Linked DNA regions of Homo sapiens. The protein of the gene in region 3 interacts with the protein of the main gene of each other region in a pairwise test. Each region holds a gene or a part of one and is shown on either strand. Other genes may lie near its edges.

What was found. The genes of interacting proteins can lie anywhere in the genome.
Region 1: the proteins of ASB3 (region 3) and SH2D2A interact in binary tests that used the Homo sapiens proteins (3 or more experiments, as listed by UniProt).
Region 2: the proteins of ASB3 (region 3) and NDUFV2 interact in binary tests that used the Homo sapiens proteins (3 or more experiments, as listed by UniProt).
Region 4: the proteins of ASB3 (region 3) and MECP2 interact in binary tests that used the Homo sapiens proteins (3 or more experiments, as listed by UniProt).

The regions. Positions count from the first base shown.
Region 1 is NC_000001.11:156,814,049-156,818,278, forward strand, and holds the start of SH2D2A (SH2 domain-containing protein 2A), read right to left. Parts: upstream 2,801-4,230; 5' UTR 2,661-2,800; coding exon 2,627-2,660; intron 2,410-2,626; exon of another isoform or gene 2,065-2,409; coding exon of another isoform or gene 2,047-2,064; coding exon 1,958-2,046; intron 1,791-1,957; coding exon of another isoform or gene 1,782-1,790; exon of another isoform or gene 1,702-1,781; intron 1,174-1,701; coding exon 989-1,173; intron 277-988; coding exon of another isoform or gene 247-276; coding exon 157-246; intron 1-156. UniProt on the Homo sapiens protein: Could be a T-cell-specific adapter protein involved in the control of T-cell activation. May play a role in the CD4-p56-LCK-dependent signal transduction pathway. Could also play an important role in normal and pathological angiogenesis.
Region 2 is NC_000018.10:9,130,199-9,133,698, reverse strand, and holds part of NDUFV2 (NADH dehydrogenase [ubiquinone] flavoprotein 2, mitochondrial precursor), read right to left. Parts: intron 1,477-3,500; exon of another isoform or gene 1,301-1,476; intron 309-1,300; exon of another isoform or gene 189-308; intron 1-188.
Region 3 is NC_000002.12:53,671,954-53,675,453, forward strand, and holds part of ASB3 (ankyrin repeat and SOCS box protein 3), read right to left. Parts: intron 1-3,500. UniProt on the Homo sapiens protein: Probable substrate-recognition component of a SCF-like ECS (Elongin-Cullin-SOCS-box protein) E3 ubiquitin-protein ligase complex which mediates the ubiquitination and subsequent proteasomal degradation of target proteins. Recognizes TNFRSF1B.
Region 4 is NC_000023.11:154,087,718-154,091,217, forward strand, and holds part of MECP2 (methyl-CpG-binding protein 2), read right to left. Parts: intron 1-3,500. UniProt on the Homo sapiens protein: Chromosomal protein that binds to methylated DNA. It can bind specifically to a single methyl-CpG pair. It is not influenced by sequences flanking the methyl-CpGs.

The DNA of each region.
Region 1 (4,230 bases), on a different chromosome or scaffold from region 3:
CCGCTCCTCGGCCAGGGTCACCAGCGAGAGGCGTGATCCCCACCTTCAGCAGCCCGGGGAATGAGCTAAGAGCCCGGCTCCTCACGGGATCAGACCCAAGCCCCGCCCCTCCCGAGCCCCGCCTTGTGTCGCCCGGCGCGGGGCCTCGCCCCTCACCTGTAAGTCAGCACGAAGGTCACCGCGCTCTCGCTGAACCGCACCAAGTAGCACCCCTGAGGCTTGGGCTCCAGCAGCCTCTCTGCCTCCCTGTGGGTGACGGAGAGAGGGGGCCGAACCCTGCTCTGACACTTCCAGCCTCGCCTCTGTCTCCCCGGCTCTCACGAGGAACCCCTACCCCCAAGCAAGCATGCTGGAGCGGCTAGAGAAAGGCTAGGGCGGAGATGGGGAGAGAGAGCACGTGGGCGCTGCTCTCCCGCTGCAGGGATTAGGCGTGGACAGGGGCCAGGGGTCCCATTCAGGAGACCCCCGCATCCTCCCCTGGCCTCATCCTGAAAGGGCAGCCTGCAGGGGCTGCTACTGCAGCTACAGGGATGGGAAAGTAGTTGGACTTCCAGATTTCAGAAGTCAAAGCTGAACTGAGGAGGTGAACAAAGAGTTAGGGAGAAATGAGGCTGAGAAATGGAGGAGGGAGATTCTGCAAGGGTGGAAGAAGAGAGGGCTGGGAGATAAAGATGGAGTAAGCCTGGAGGGAGAGAGAGGTGGAAAATACCAGCATTCGAGGCCTTAGGGACAGGAGGATAATGGGGCCTAGAGAGGGGAAGCTGAGGTACACAGAGGGCTGGACTGGAGCCTCTCCAATGATCTCCCCTGGAGAGATGCCTCAGTGAAAGGCTAGGAAAACTCTGGGAGTGGGAGCCTGGAGTGGGCGCCTCCATCTACTCCAGACTGGTAGAAGTGGGAGCCTTCATCTATTCCTGGCAGGTGGCAGGACCCAGACCCAGGACTTGCCCTGCCCCTGTCTGGGCCAATTTCCTCCTCCATGACTCACCTCCGGGTGATGAAGCCATGGAACCAGGCAGGGGCTGCCCCGTGCTGCAGGAGCCAGTGGGCCTGGGTCTTCTGGAACCAAGCCCGGGTCTCGGCCTGCAGGAACAGGCTTCCTTCTCCAGGCACCTCCTCTGCCCTCTCAGCATTCCCTGTGTTGGAGGCAGCCTCCGGGGCCTGGGGAGATGCCTGGATCAGGGAAGAGTTCAAGGAGGGGGAAGCAGCATGATGAGTGGGCCTTCTCCTGACTTTGATCCACCTGCCACCTTCTTTTCCTCATACCCAGCCTCTCCTGTCTATTTTAGGGTACAATTGCCCAGAAAGTCCTTCCTAAAGTCTAACTTAAATCCCTTCTTCAGCTCCAGCTGTTCTGGCTTCCAGAGACTCTCCTTCCTTTGCCCTCTGGGTCCTGAGGGCTTTTAATCCAGCAGCAGTGAGCTGTCACACTGTGCTCTAGGAGGGGCGGGAAAGGCAGCACAGCCTTCCAGATGGACAGAGTCATTCCCTGGCCTGGAGGATGAAGAAACATGATGCAGGAAGTCACCCTAGAGGCCAGAATGAGGGAGGGCTTACTTCATAATATGAGGGACTGACCTAGTTCGCAGGGAAAATTATTGACTGGGCAGGAGAGAAGGACTGAGACGGGAATGTGGAATGCACTGGGCAAATGGTCACTGACACAGAGTGCAGATGCCTGCTTCTGGGACTCAATGCACTGCACCCTGGTCATCTGCGGACTCAGCCTGAGCTTCCAGAGGGCCTAGGAGCAGTAAGGGAGTGAGTGGGCAACTCGGCGCATGAAGGAGGTACTCCTCATTTTCGTTCTCTCTCTCTGTGCCCCAGCCCGTTGGCAGACCCGGATCATTCCTGCCTTCTCTTGGAGTGGCCTTTGTCCATCTGCAAGTCCTTCCCCATGGGAGGGTGGGAGAGATGAGGGAGCTGCACCACGCTGCCGCCCCAGGTTTCCACTCACCGCAGTGTAGCCCAGGTTCTGGCAGCTCCTGCGGGTCATGTCTGTGATCTGGAAGGTGCTGAAGGTTGGGATGGGGGCTTCGTGACTCCCTGTGAGCACAAAGAGGGCTGCCGGGGTTTCTCAGAGAGGAACTATGTCTGTCTCTGCCTCCCACCCCTCCTCCCAGGCTCAGGGGATCTGGAGGGCTGGGACAGTCTTAACGACAGGAAAAACGCAGAAGGGCAGCAGGGGAGTTTCTCAGGCATGAGGTTAAGTAGCCAAGGCGGCATGGGGGGCTAATGCTGCCAGAGGAGGTTGTGAGGGACACCAGGTGCCTAGAAGGAGAGGCTGGGAGTCAGGCTGGCCTTCGGATGGTCAGGGAGGCAGATCACTTCAGGGCAGGCCCTTCTTCTGGTCCAGGATCTTCTGCCTCCTTCTCCCTTCATCCTCCTGCTCCCTCCTCTCTCCTCTCTGAGAAGCCCTCAACAAACCCTGTCACCTTTATCCTCAGGGATGAGTGGGCATGGAGCCCCAGGCAGGGTTGTGGTCACCCTGCCAATCAGCTTTGCCAGCTCTGGCTTAGGGTGGGGCCCCTCATCCCTGAAGTGGGAGCTCAAGCCCAGGAGGGAGGGCAGGGGGATGGGGGTCTTTGTGCCCCCTCCCACCCATATCCTTCAACTTCACACTTACCTTGGGGACATATCTGGGCCAGGGGGAACTCCATGAGGGCAGCCTCACAAGGGATCCCAGAGCAGGGTGTGTGTATGTGTTCCGGAAAGGTGTGCACACTCAGCAACTCATCATCTCTCCTCTCACCCTGGCCCCGGGGGCAGGAAATGTCGCCTTACCCACAGCCTTAGTTCTGGCGAGGACTCACGTCATGGAAAGCCTTAAGACGATTGTCCCACCCCCGGAAGCCACGCAGCTGTAGATAGCGGTGGTATAGCGGTGGGGGGTATCTGTGTCACTCTGTGTTTAGGTGTTAGGAAGCCCTTACTGCTGCCTGACCTTCATCCCTCCAGATTCTTTCTCTGCCCCCTCACCCCAAACTAGAACTTCCCTTTCTCTCTCTCTCTCTCTCTCTCTCTCTCATCTCTCTTGGCTTCTATTTCTTTCTCTCTGGAAAATCTCCCACTCTGCCTCTTGGCCTGTTCTGAGCAGTGGGAATGGGGATGTCAACCTCAAGGATAAGCCACACAAGGTGCTTATGGATCATGCTTTGAGGAGACATGAGGAAGGGAGGGGGCAGGGCTGCAACAGGAAGGATGTGGGTCAGACTTCTGGAAGGACTTTTTGAGGACATGTGAAATCTATGAGTCTGGGCATGGTGGCTCATGCTTGTAATCCCAGTACTTTGGGAGGCTCAGGCGAGAGAATCGCTTGAGCCCAGGAGTTCATGATCAGCCCTGGGTAACATAGTGAGAGCCCATCACTATTTTTAAAATAATAATAATAATAGTAATAATAATAAAGAAATCTATAAGACAAGGGGTTAGAGAGGAGGGGGCCTGGCTTCCATCATTCAGCAGATAATGGAGCTGAGTTAGGGCAAAACCAGGCAATATTGGAGGAAGGAAAGAGAATTCCTCCAGCTAAGCAGGTCATCATTAGTATCAACACTATCAGCAGTTGTCATTAATAACATCAGTGTTGACATCTTTTTTTTTTTTTTTTTTGAGACAGAGTCTAGCTCTGTCACCCAGGCTGGACTGCAGTGGCACAATCTCAGCTCACTGCAACTTCCGCCTCCCAGGTTCAAGGGATTCTTGTGCCTCAGCCTCCCGAGTAGCTGGGATTACAGGCTTGTACCACCATGCCTGGCTAATTTTTGTATTTTTAGTAGAGACAGGGTTTCACCGTGTTGGCCAGGCTGGTCTTGAACTCCTGGCGTCAAGTGATCCACCCACCTCGGCCTCCCAAAGTGTTGGGATTACAGGCGTGAGCCACTGCACTGGCCAGTGTTAATGTCTTAAACTTTCAATGTGCTTAGACTTCCCACCATACCAAAGGACCAATCCCATTTCTCTCTGAATTTATCTTCACAAACTAAGAAGGGGACAGGAACATTATCCCCATTTACCAGAAGCTCAGAGGAGTGCCTTGGCCAGGGTCTTTCAGTGTCTGAGAAGTTGGTGTGAGTGCTGGGACTAGAAGGTAGACTTCCTTTCACTAATTTCACTGTGATTTAGGCCAAAGGTTCATGACTATGTGCTATGCACTGTTCTTGGTACTGAGAACCCAGAGAGGAAAAAAAAAACTTTGTTTCAAGATGTCAGATGGGGGAGATGGACTTG
Region 2 (3,500 bases), on a different chromosome or scaffold from region 3:
CAGTCACAGTGAATAGAGGGAATACACACACTTATACATTGTATTTGGAAATAGAAACTGGATTCCTTGAGGAAATATGATTTGGGACAATGTCCCTTAGAAGCAGCGAAGTCAAAATCAGTTTGTATTTATGTATTATAAAGACTATATTAGTAGTAGTAATTTTCTGAAAAAAGTTTCCAAACCAGGATGGCCATAGCAGCCACAAAAGGAAGCAAACAAGAACAAGTCCTGATGGAGCAATTTATGAAGACAGGCAGCATAGAGGGAGAAGAACCTGTCTGTCAACCCCACACACGCTTTCCCAGGTAATTGCTCACCTCTGCCCTGTCTGACCTCTGTTTCTAGAGCCCAGCTCAGACTTACTGTATGTCACCCCTCCACCACTATTCCCTGGCTTTGCTAATTTACCTGTTCCTGCCACAGATTTACCTAAAGAAAGAACTTGTTCAGTTTATATCTTTTCAACCCCCTCTGGCTTTGCCCTTCACATTGTGTCATCAATCCTTTAAGTCTGTTCTTTAGAGCCCTAGGGAATCATTTTTTATTGGAGCCAGGAAAGTGACACCACATAATATAAGATCTTTCAAGATGTCACAGCATATAATACAAGTTACTAAGTAATGAACAATTATCTACAAAGTCAGAACTTAGTTAATATCTTTGGATTATAGGTCTTGTTCACTACAAAAACAGATAAAAAAGCAGTCATTGTATACTGTAAGAGCCTGAAACTTGTAGAGTAAGCAGCAAAATGATACTTAACTTTAAAAAAAAGACAACAGTATTATATTTTGCAATTTTTAAATTTATTTATTATTTTTGAGACAGGGTCCCACTTTGTCACCCAGGCTGGGATGCAGTGATGCAATAATGGCTCACTGCAGTCTTAACCTCCCAGGCTCAGGTGCTTCTGTCACCTCAGCCTCCCACGTAGCTGGGACTACAGGTGTGCGTCACCATGCCTGGCTAATTTTTGTATTTTTCGTAGAGACAAGACCTCACCATGTTGCCCTGGCTGGTCTTGAATTTGTGGGCTCAAACAATCTGTCCGCCTCAACCTCCCAAAGTGCTGGGATTACAGGTGAGCCACTGTGCCCGGCCTGTAATTTTTTATGTTGCCTATTGATAGGCACCACTGCTGCTCTTTAAATGTCAATGAAATTATTTTGGAGAAACTTTCTTCACCTTTACTAGGTTTCTTCTTACGGTTTAAGCTCAGCTACCTCTTCTTTTCTGCCTAAAACTTTTCTCTTGATCAAATATCAGAATGGAATATGATTTAAAAGTTTCATTTTAGACGTCTCCTGAAAGCTGAGCATTTGTTATCTTAAAGCCTCTTACCAGTTTGGATAGATATGGATCTTCCAAAATTAATGAGCTCCTTAATATCGACACTGTTTATCAACATAAAGGATCAATTTAGGAAGATTATAAAAACTGAAGTTTCCGGAACAATAAATGGGAGAATTAATCGTAAGTACTTCCTGAGTTCTTCACAGGATTATAGAATTTTATATATGGAAGTAATTTTAAAAATAATCTGGTCTAGAGTTTCCTAAAGTTTGTTCCATAAAATTACAATCCCATGGCATTGTATAGAAAAACGGGAGTCCCAGTGATCCAGTATGTCTGGCTGTAAACCTCCCTTCCTCGCCATTCACACAGTGTACCTTAAAATACTACAAAGGCTACAAAAATCCTCCAATAAAGCCTATAATTTTGTTTAATCTACTAAAAATGTAACCCCCCCTTTCATCTGTAAACATGCCTCAGAACACTCAAGAGGCAGTGAGCTAGCCCTATCCACTCACCTGACAGCCACAATTTACACTAGTGTTTTTCACTTACTAAACAAAAAATGATTTTCCTGATATCTCATGCTTAAAATGCCATCTAATAATTACATCTTCACTAAAATTTAAAAAGTATGGTTCGTCAGTCATTCCAACACTATACGTATGTGTACCATTTTAACTTATTTGCTTTCTAGAAAACTTGGCCTTTCTGTAAACTTTCATGGCTTAAAGTACTTTACATAGACAAATTACTTTATAAAAGTTTAGTGCTTTTTACTATTGCTGAGATATATCCAGCACTGTCCCTACTTTTAGTATAAAAAACCAAAAGTGATGTTATTGTCTAGAGTCATCTACCAACCGCATTGGAACTGTAGCCTAGCTCTAAATATGAAGAATTAAAGTTGGATTTAAAATGAGTTATAAACTAATCCATACTAAAAAATTTCTACCTATTAGTAACCTGAAAACAAGTTTAGAATTTTTCAGTACTTTAAATTCACTGAAAATAAGAACAATCTCAGCACAAAAATATTTAGTAATGTCAAGATTAAGAGACTACAGCTGACCCTGAACAACACAGGTTTGAACTGCATGGGTTCACTTGTACATGGATTTTCTTCAGCCTCTGCCACCTCTGAGACAGCAAGGCCAACCCCTCCTCTTCCTCAGCCTATACAACATGAAAATGATAAGACTTGTACTATGATCCACTTAATGAAGAGTAAATATATTTTCATTATGATTTTAATAACATTTTCTTTTCTCTAGATTATGGTAAGAATACAGTCAGTATATAATACAGACAACATGCAAAATATGTGCTGACTATGTTATTTGTTAAGGCCTTCAGACAACTGCAGGCTATGAGTAAAGTTTTGGAGGAGTCAAAAGTTACACACAGATCTTCAACTGCATGAGCAATCAATGTCCCTAACGCCCATGGTGTTCAAGAGTCAACTGTATTATCTTACCACTGCTTTAATATTTTCAGTGGTCATTCACCAACGATAATACAAAAGCAGTTTTGAACCACATATAGACATCAGTCTTTTACTAATTTTGGCCAGGGTAAGACCTGGCAGTGGTACTCAGGAATCAGTTACTATTGAACCAGTTTAATTCCTCTCGGTTTTTCATTACAGAGACGCACAATTAGTACCTCTTTCAAAGAGCAGAGATATTTATTATTAAAATACCAATAAAAAAGAATTAGACAGCTTTGGTTAATTTAGAATAACTATAACTATATTATGGTTATTGCTATCCCAGTCTCTGTCATTATCCTATATATCCAAGATATTGGGTAAGTAAAGTGAAAAGTTCTTGTTTTCATATGCTGACAAGACATTCTAGTATTGCTATGTCCAAATACAAGCTTTATATAATACAGCATTGGTGGATGCTTGCAATTATTGAAACCTAAGTAGACTTTTGTCTGCTTTTTAAATAAGAGGTAGTAAGTAAAAAAAGAGATTCGGACACGAATAATTTTGAAGTATTTGGCTCAAATCCAGAACACTGTCAAGAAAATCTCAGCGAAAAACTATTCATGATTACTGATAAGTAACATCCCTATTATTATCAGATGTTGTTGAAAATGCTTAACTGAGTACTTAGTTCCTGCTTATTGTTAAAATACAATGTTATAGTACCTCATATTACAAATAACAGATTTTAATTTCACCCCGATAATGTCAT
Region 3 (3,500 bases):
TCAAGAGCACAGCTGATACCAGACCAGCTAGTCTGATTCCAGGTATAGGGTTCTTTAAACTCTAATACCCATAGGGCTTGAGACCAATTAATTCTCTAACATCTTCAATATCTTCCAAGCCATAGAAGTTAACTCATCATCGTTTTTAGTTTACTAGTTTAGGTTTAGTTTAGTTTATTCAGAATTAAAGAAATCACTCAAACTGGTGTTTCAAAATGCCAAATAAGAAAGCAAAAGTTATCGATTTTGTACATAAAACCTAAGTCTAAGCTGGGCATTTTCTTAAATCATGAGTCATAGATTCCCTATTATAAATAATAAGATTACAGTATCTATAGTATATAGCACGCACATTTATTTCTAACTTTTTTCATATCCATATCTTACTTAAATTTGACACTTTTCTGTAAACTTAAAGGAGAAATGATGGTTCTCACATGAAAGATGGGAAGACACAGGTAAAGGGGCCACTGGAGGAAGTTGCAGGAATACATATGGAAAGCAGGCCCAAGCTGCAAACACCACCGTTTTCCAAAGGTTTAAGTAGATTGACTATGTTCAACTATCAAGTATAAGGAAGCCCTCTTAGTAGGATCATGAACAATAATTGGTCAGTTAATAGAAACTCACCTTAAAGCAGGTGACCACAACAACCATACATACTTTAAACATTCTAATTTAAAATGGATACATGAACACATCTAGAATGCAACATCTATGGCTTGCAGTTTATTTATGTATTTTTTACTCACCACTATATAAATAAGGACACAGTTTCACTTTCTTTGAGTTACAGCATGGATTTAAAGGCATGTATGAAACAAGGTGAGTGCATAATCCTTCCATATTTTTACAGGTTTTTTTGCTTTCAGTTGTTGTAGCCACGTCTAATTCAATATCTATTTCTGTTCTGTGCTTATCTTTATCAAGTCTTTTGCATTCTACTTTGCCTTAACAGCAACAATGATTCTCTTTTCACACTCATAATTCATTAGCTTGTGCAATCTGGAATTATTTAACTCCAATAATATGCACAACGTAATAAAAAGTTTCAGAAATAAGCATAACTGCTGTTTGGTAAGCACACACCTCTGCTGGTAGGAACACTGGCATTCTAGAGTGTAGCTGGCCAGCTGCAAACACAGAGCATGCCAATGGACATAGTCAGATGGAAATGAAAGAGAAAATGACAAGACTGTTTAATCCAGTGTGTGTTTTTAAAGAGAATTTCTACTTATATTCAGTTAGAGTTTAACAGGCATCTGTTAAATTGAATCTCTTCATTCTGCACATTCTTAGGAACATGAATACTTACTACACAACCAGAAGGAAGATAAAGGATGGCTGTGCAACCCGGAGGAGAGCTGCTCACATGGAGATAAGGGATCCTTAATGATGCTCCAGCTTCTCAGAGTGGACAGACTACACTGGCTTAAAATTCTATGGGCTGACTGGGAAGATTCCTCCAGATACCCTAAAACTTAATGTAGTGCTGACCAGCTTTTCTAGATTATGTGACTACATCACTGGAGGTCTATCTTTAAAGCTTAATAAATCATTTGTTTATGCTAATTATGTGTAGAAGCTTAACCATTAGTGATCAAGCCACACTAGACCAGTTCGCATTTGTTAGGAGAAGCGTAACTGACTTGCCCACTGAGATGTGGCACATCAACAACATAGCTGTTGTTAACTAGATCTCAATGATTTGACTCCCAGTCCAGGGTTCTTTAAACTATGATAAGCTCAATATAATTCTCCAACATCTTCTAAACCACTGAAACTATCATAAATTTCAGAATATCTTTCCATTTAATAATAAAAAAGGAAAAGTATAGCTACTTCAGGTATTGGTTCAAATTTTAATTGCACCATTTTGGTTTTCCTTCTAAGAGCACAACAGATCACTGGCCTAATGAACAATTAGAGGTAAGAACTATGTTCAGCTGAACTGAGGGAGTGTTTCATGTGTAGATTATTAACACAGACAATAATATGCCTGTCAGTGCCATTTTTGTTTAATATGCCAGTAAATACTAAGGGAATTTTATAACCATATATGCAATATTTCAAAGCACACAAAATCCCTATGAAAGTTTTAGTGATGCATAGTTATTTCCAGACGTGTTGCCACTAGGCTAGAAGATCAAGCCATGCCTTGAATTTATAATACGAAAAAGGCCACAGAAGCTGTATGTAAAACATACTTTCATGAAAACCTATTAAAACTATATTTTAGTTTTGTTAAATACATCTCCATGTTCTTGGATTATGGCAGTGATTGTAACCTAGAAAATGACGTCTGAAACCATGCTACACTTCTAAGTCACTTTTCTGACCCAATCATTTTTATTCAATATGTTAAACTTAGTTTATCCATAGATCTATTAGCAGATGAGTAATATTTAACTTTTAATTCCTATACAGAATTCCTCTATTTTGTTCATTTTGTTATATGTACTGGCAGAACAATCAAAATAGAAGACTACATGTTGTTATACAAAGTTTTGTTAAAATCAAAAGCACACACAATGATCAAAATAAACGTCACAATTCTTAATTCATTATGCTTATAAATGCCAACTTTACTATAGCACAAAACTATATCTATATCATACACACCCACTATATTTTCTACATTCATCTTTAGCCTTCCCTCAGGCCAATGTTCAAACAACCTATCTGCCTGAACTACATTTCTCTGGTTCCTTTGAAATGTTTTGCACATCAAATGCATTTATCTGACTTCTGAGACACCTACTACCATTTTTATTTTCATCATTAATATATTGTCTTTCTCGTTGGTATCCATCCTTTTGTTCCCAGTTTTTCTTAATTTACTTGTGTTGTCTCTCTCATTGACTATAACTAAAACCGCTAGAAAAAACACAAAAAGCAAGTACCTGAGAACTCTGAAAAACAAGTAATAGATTAGGACATGAAGTCAAAACAATAGGAATGGCCAGTATAAAGGAATGACCAGTAGAGGCAATGAATGGATTAAATGGAAAAGCACCATCTAGTAGTAACACCTGTGCTGGCGCTGAGGTGCCACTATTAACTAGCTGTGTGACCCTGGGCAAGTCATCTAAATATTCTGACTTTCAGTTACCTTTCCATAAAATGAGAATAATGCCTCATCTACAAAATGGGCATAATGACACTTCCCTGCATCAAAAGGCTGTTGATGATGTTCAAGTTGGAACACATTTGCAAAAGCATTTCATAAAGTGAAACACCACACAAATCCCAGGCACCACAGAATCTAGTGATCTCCAAATGTTTTGATTACACACTAAATTAGTAAAGTCTCTGACCACAGAATCCAATATATATTTTACATATAAATTACATGTATACTATTAACCAAACATTATTTGTACTATAAAATAAAATAAGCCAATATAAAATAAGATATATACTTTAAATAATTTCATTTTTAAAGGTATAAGACTCCTTTAAATATTAATATTTTAACAAGAACAAGGTGATTGACTAGG
Region 4 (3,500 bases), on a different chromosome or scaffold from region 3:
GAGCCACCATGCCTGGCCCCTCTATTTTTATCAGGTGTTACAGAAAAGCTTCAAAATCATCATGGAAGAAAATTATCATTTTTACCAGTACAAAACTTTTATTGCATCCCAACCAAGCTAAGATGAATACAGAATTGTTTCAACAGAAGTTACCATTATCATAATTCAAGACAAAAATCAGCCGGCAATTACATGAGTTGGAAAACAAACTACTCTTATGTCACAGTCTACCCTAAAGCTCCAACTTATGTCAGAATTTAAAATACACACACATATACACAACCCTGTGGATTCCTCCTCATTTATGTAAAACCTACTTTTGTGATGATCTGCTATTTTCTTGAGTCTTCTGGAATGAACACTGTAGCCCCACTCCCGGATAAGGAGAAGATACCACTTCCAGGGCTTAGCACTGCCCCTGGCTTGAAGCAGATACTCAAATATTTGTTGGGTGAATGAATGATTGTCTGCTGATAGGGCTGCCCATCAAGCCTCATAAAGAAAAAATTCAGAAAAAAGCAACTTTATAGAGAAAATAGGAAAAAGTTTAAGAGATATTTTGCTCACTTGAAGAAATCAGCATTTGTTAAAGGTGAAGACTGGATTGACTGGTTCATCAAGTGGCTTAGACACAACTGACTAAGTGGGCTATACCTTATCCCACCCCAAAGTTAAATACAAAACAGGTATTTTTTTTTTTAATCACAGGAAAAACACAGGGCAACTTAACTATAAAATTATTATTTTTATTTTTTATTTTTGAGACAGAGCCTCACTCTATCGCCCAGGCAGGAGTGCAGTGGCGTGATCTTGGCTCACCGAAACTTCTGCCTCCTGGGTTCAAGCGATTCTCCTGCCTCAGTCACCCCAGTAGTTGAGATTACAGGTGCCCGCCACCACGCCTGGCTAATTTTTGTATTTTTAGTAGAGACGGGATTTCACCATCTTGGCCAGGCTGGTCTTGAACTCTTGACCTCAGGTGATCCACCCGCCTCAGCCTCCCAAAGTGCTGGGATTACAGGCATGAGCCACCGCATCTGGCCCTTTTGTATGTATTAAATACGTATGTATGAATATAATACATCATCAGGTTTTTTAGGAAGAAAATATAGATGACTATTGATCTGTTGTTAAGAGTAGGAAAGGATTTCCTGGCGGGGCGCGGTGGCTCACGCCTGTAATCCCAGCACTTTGGGAGGCAGAGACGGGCGGATCACAAGGTCAGGAGATCGAGACCAGCCTGGCTAACATGGTGAAACCCTGTCTCACAAATACAAAAAAATTAGCCAGGCGTGGTGGCGGGCGCCTGTAGTCCCAGCTACTCGGGAGGCTGAGGCAGGAGAATGGAATGAACCCGGGAGATGGAGCTTGCAGTGAGCCAAGATCACGCCATTGCACTCCAACCTGGGCGACAGAGCGAGACTCCGTCTCAAAAAAAAAAAAAAAAAAAAAAAAAAGAGTAAAAAAGGATTTCCTAAGTATGAAAGCAAAAGAATAAATCATAACATAAATTTTATATATCAGAAAGACAAGAATCAAGACGTAAGACAAAACAGGAAAATATCTGCATGACAAAGAGTTAACATCTTTAATACATTAAGAGCTATGACAATGATTATTGAGGTTTAGCCTCAGTAATAATCCAAGCGGCACCAATTTAAAAGATGTATATCCAATTCTGGGACGATATGGGAAAATGGCACTTTCTCAGACTGTTGTGGGAACTGGGATAGCCATTTTGGACAGTGATGTGGTGGTATCCACCAGAAATTCCAAGTCTAGGCAGCCATTCTTCAAAATGACTGGCACATGAGGAATTTCAATCCTGTAGCATTTTTAATAACATAGAGAGACAACGAAATGCATGACGGTAAGTCAGCCCTGGACTACACTGCTATTTAAAAGAAATGAGGCAGAGATGAATATATGAGATGGAAAAATGCAGAATATGTATATATAACACCATCCTGAGGCCAGGCACGGTGGCTCACGCCTGTAATCCCAGCACTTTGGGAGGCCAAGGCAGGTGGATCGCCTGAGGTCAGGAGTTCGACACCAGCCTGGCCAACATGGTGAAACCCATCTCTACTAAAAATACAAAAATTAGCTGGGTGTGGTGGCAGGCGCCTGTAATCCCAGCTACTCAGGAGGCTGAGGCAGGAGAATCACTTGAACCCAGGAGGTGGAGGTTGCAGTGAGCCAAGATTGTGCCACTGTACTCCAGCCTGGATGACAGAGCAAGACTCCATCTCAAAAAAAGAAAAAACAAAACAAAACAAAAACCCTCCTGTTAATTACAACACAAAAAGTACACAGTTTAGTCTTAGAAGACTTAGAAGGATCTACATTAAGCTATTAACAGCAGTTATTCTGGGTAGTGGGAGCAGAGATTAAGCGGGGAGCTTTCATTTTTTTACCTGATACTTTTTTTTTTTTTTTTTTTTGAGACCGAGTCTCACTCTGTCACCCAGGCAGGAGTTCAGTGGTGTGATCTTGGCTCACTGCAACCTCCGCCTCCCAGGTTCAAGTGATTCTCCTGCCTCAGCCTTCCGAGTAGCTGGGACTACACGCTCAAGCCACCATGGCCAGCTAATTTTTGTATTTTTAATAGAGATGGGGTTTCGCCGTGTTAGCCAGGCTGGTCTCGAACTCCTGACTTCAGGTGATCCACCCGCCTAGGCCTCCCAAAGCGCTGTGATTACAGGCATGAGCCACCTTGCCCAGCCACCTGATCAATTTTTAAGTGGTTTGATTTTTCTATAAATCCATGTATTATTTTAGTAATTCTTTAAAAAGTAAAAGAAGAAAAATAGATATCAAGCATTTATCTACTAAAGACGGGTACTGTCCTTTGAGAATTCCCTCAAAAGTTCTTTGAAGCTCAAATGGCTACATCTTTCCCATTCATAAGATACTTTTTAAATTTCCTCTTTCTACATTTCTTTTTAAAAGTTTATTTTCAATTAGCTTCCTCAGGTTGAACTCTCTGTACATTTCTTAGGAGAAACTGTATGGTGTCAACACTGCCTGTTTTATAACATCCATTCGTAATCTGTAATCTGAGAAAAAGACTCGTAAAAACCCAAACCACCCTCCAGGCCTAACATCTTCCAGAAGAAACCCATTCACTGCCCATATTACATTTAGTCCACACAATTTCTGAGACAAAGCACAAAGCACTAGCCATACAACTCCCACCAGCATAAATACGTGGAGTACAAAGAATGTCCTGTCAGCTGGGCCCAGAGCACACCCCACAGCAGTAAAAGAGAATGACAATTTGAGTCACAGGATCAGGAGCAGAATCAAATTTGGGACTTGAGGCAGTGTGATGCTCTTCTGGTCTTCCGCTTCCTTCCACACCTTCTATTCTCCTTCAGCCAAACCTTGCCCTCACATAATCCCTAAGCAGGCTATTTCTTATGGATGTCTACAACAGCTTCACACTGAGGTGTCAGAAACCACTAGAGAGACAACAAAGAACGACTTAGGGTCTCAGT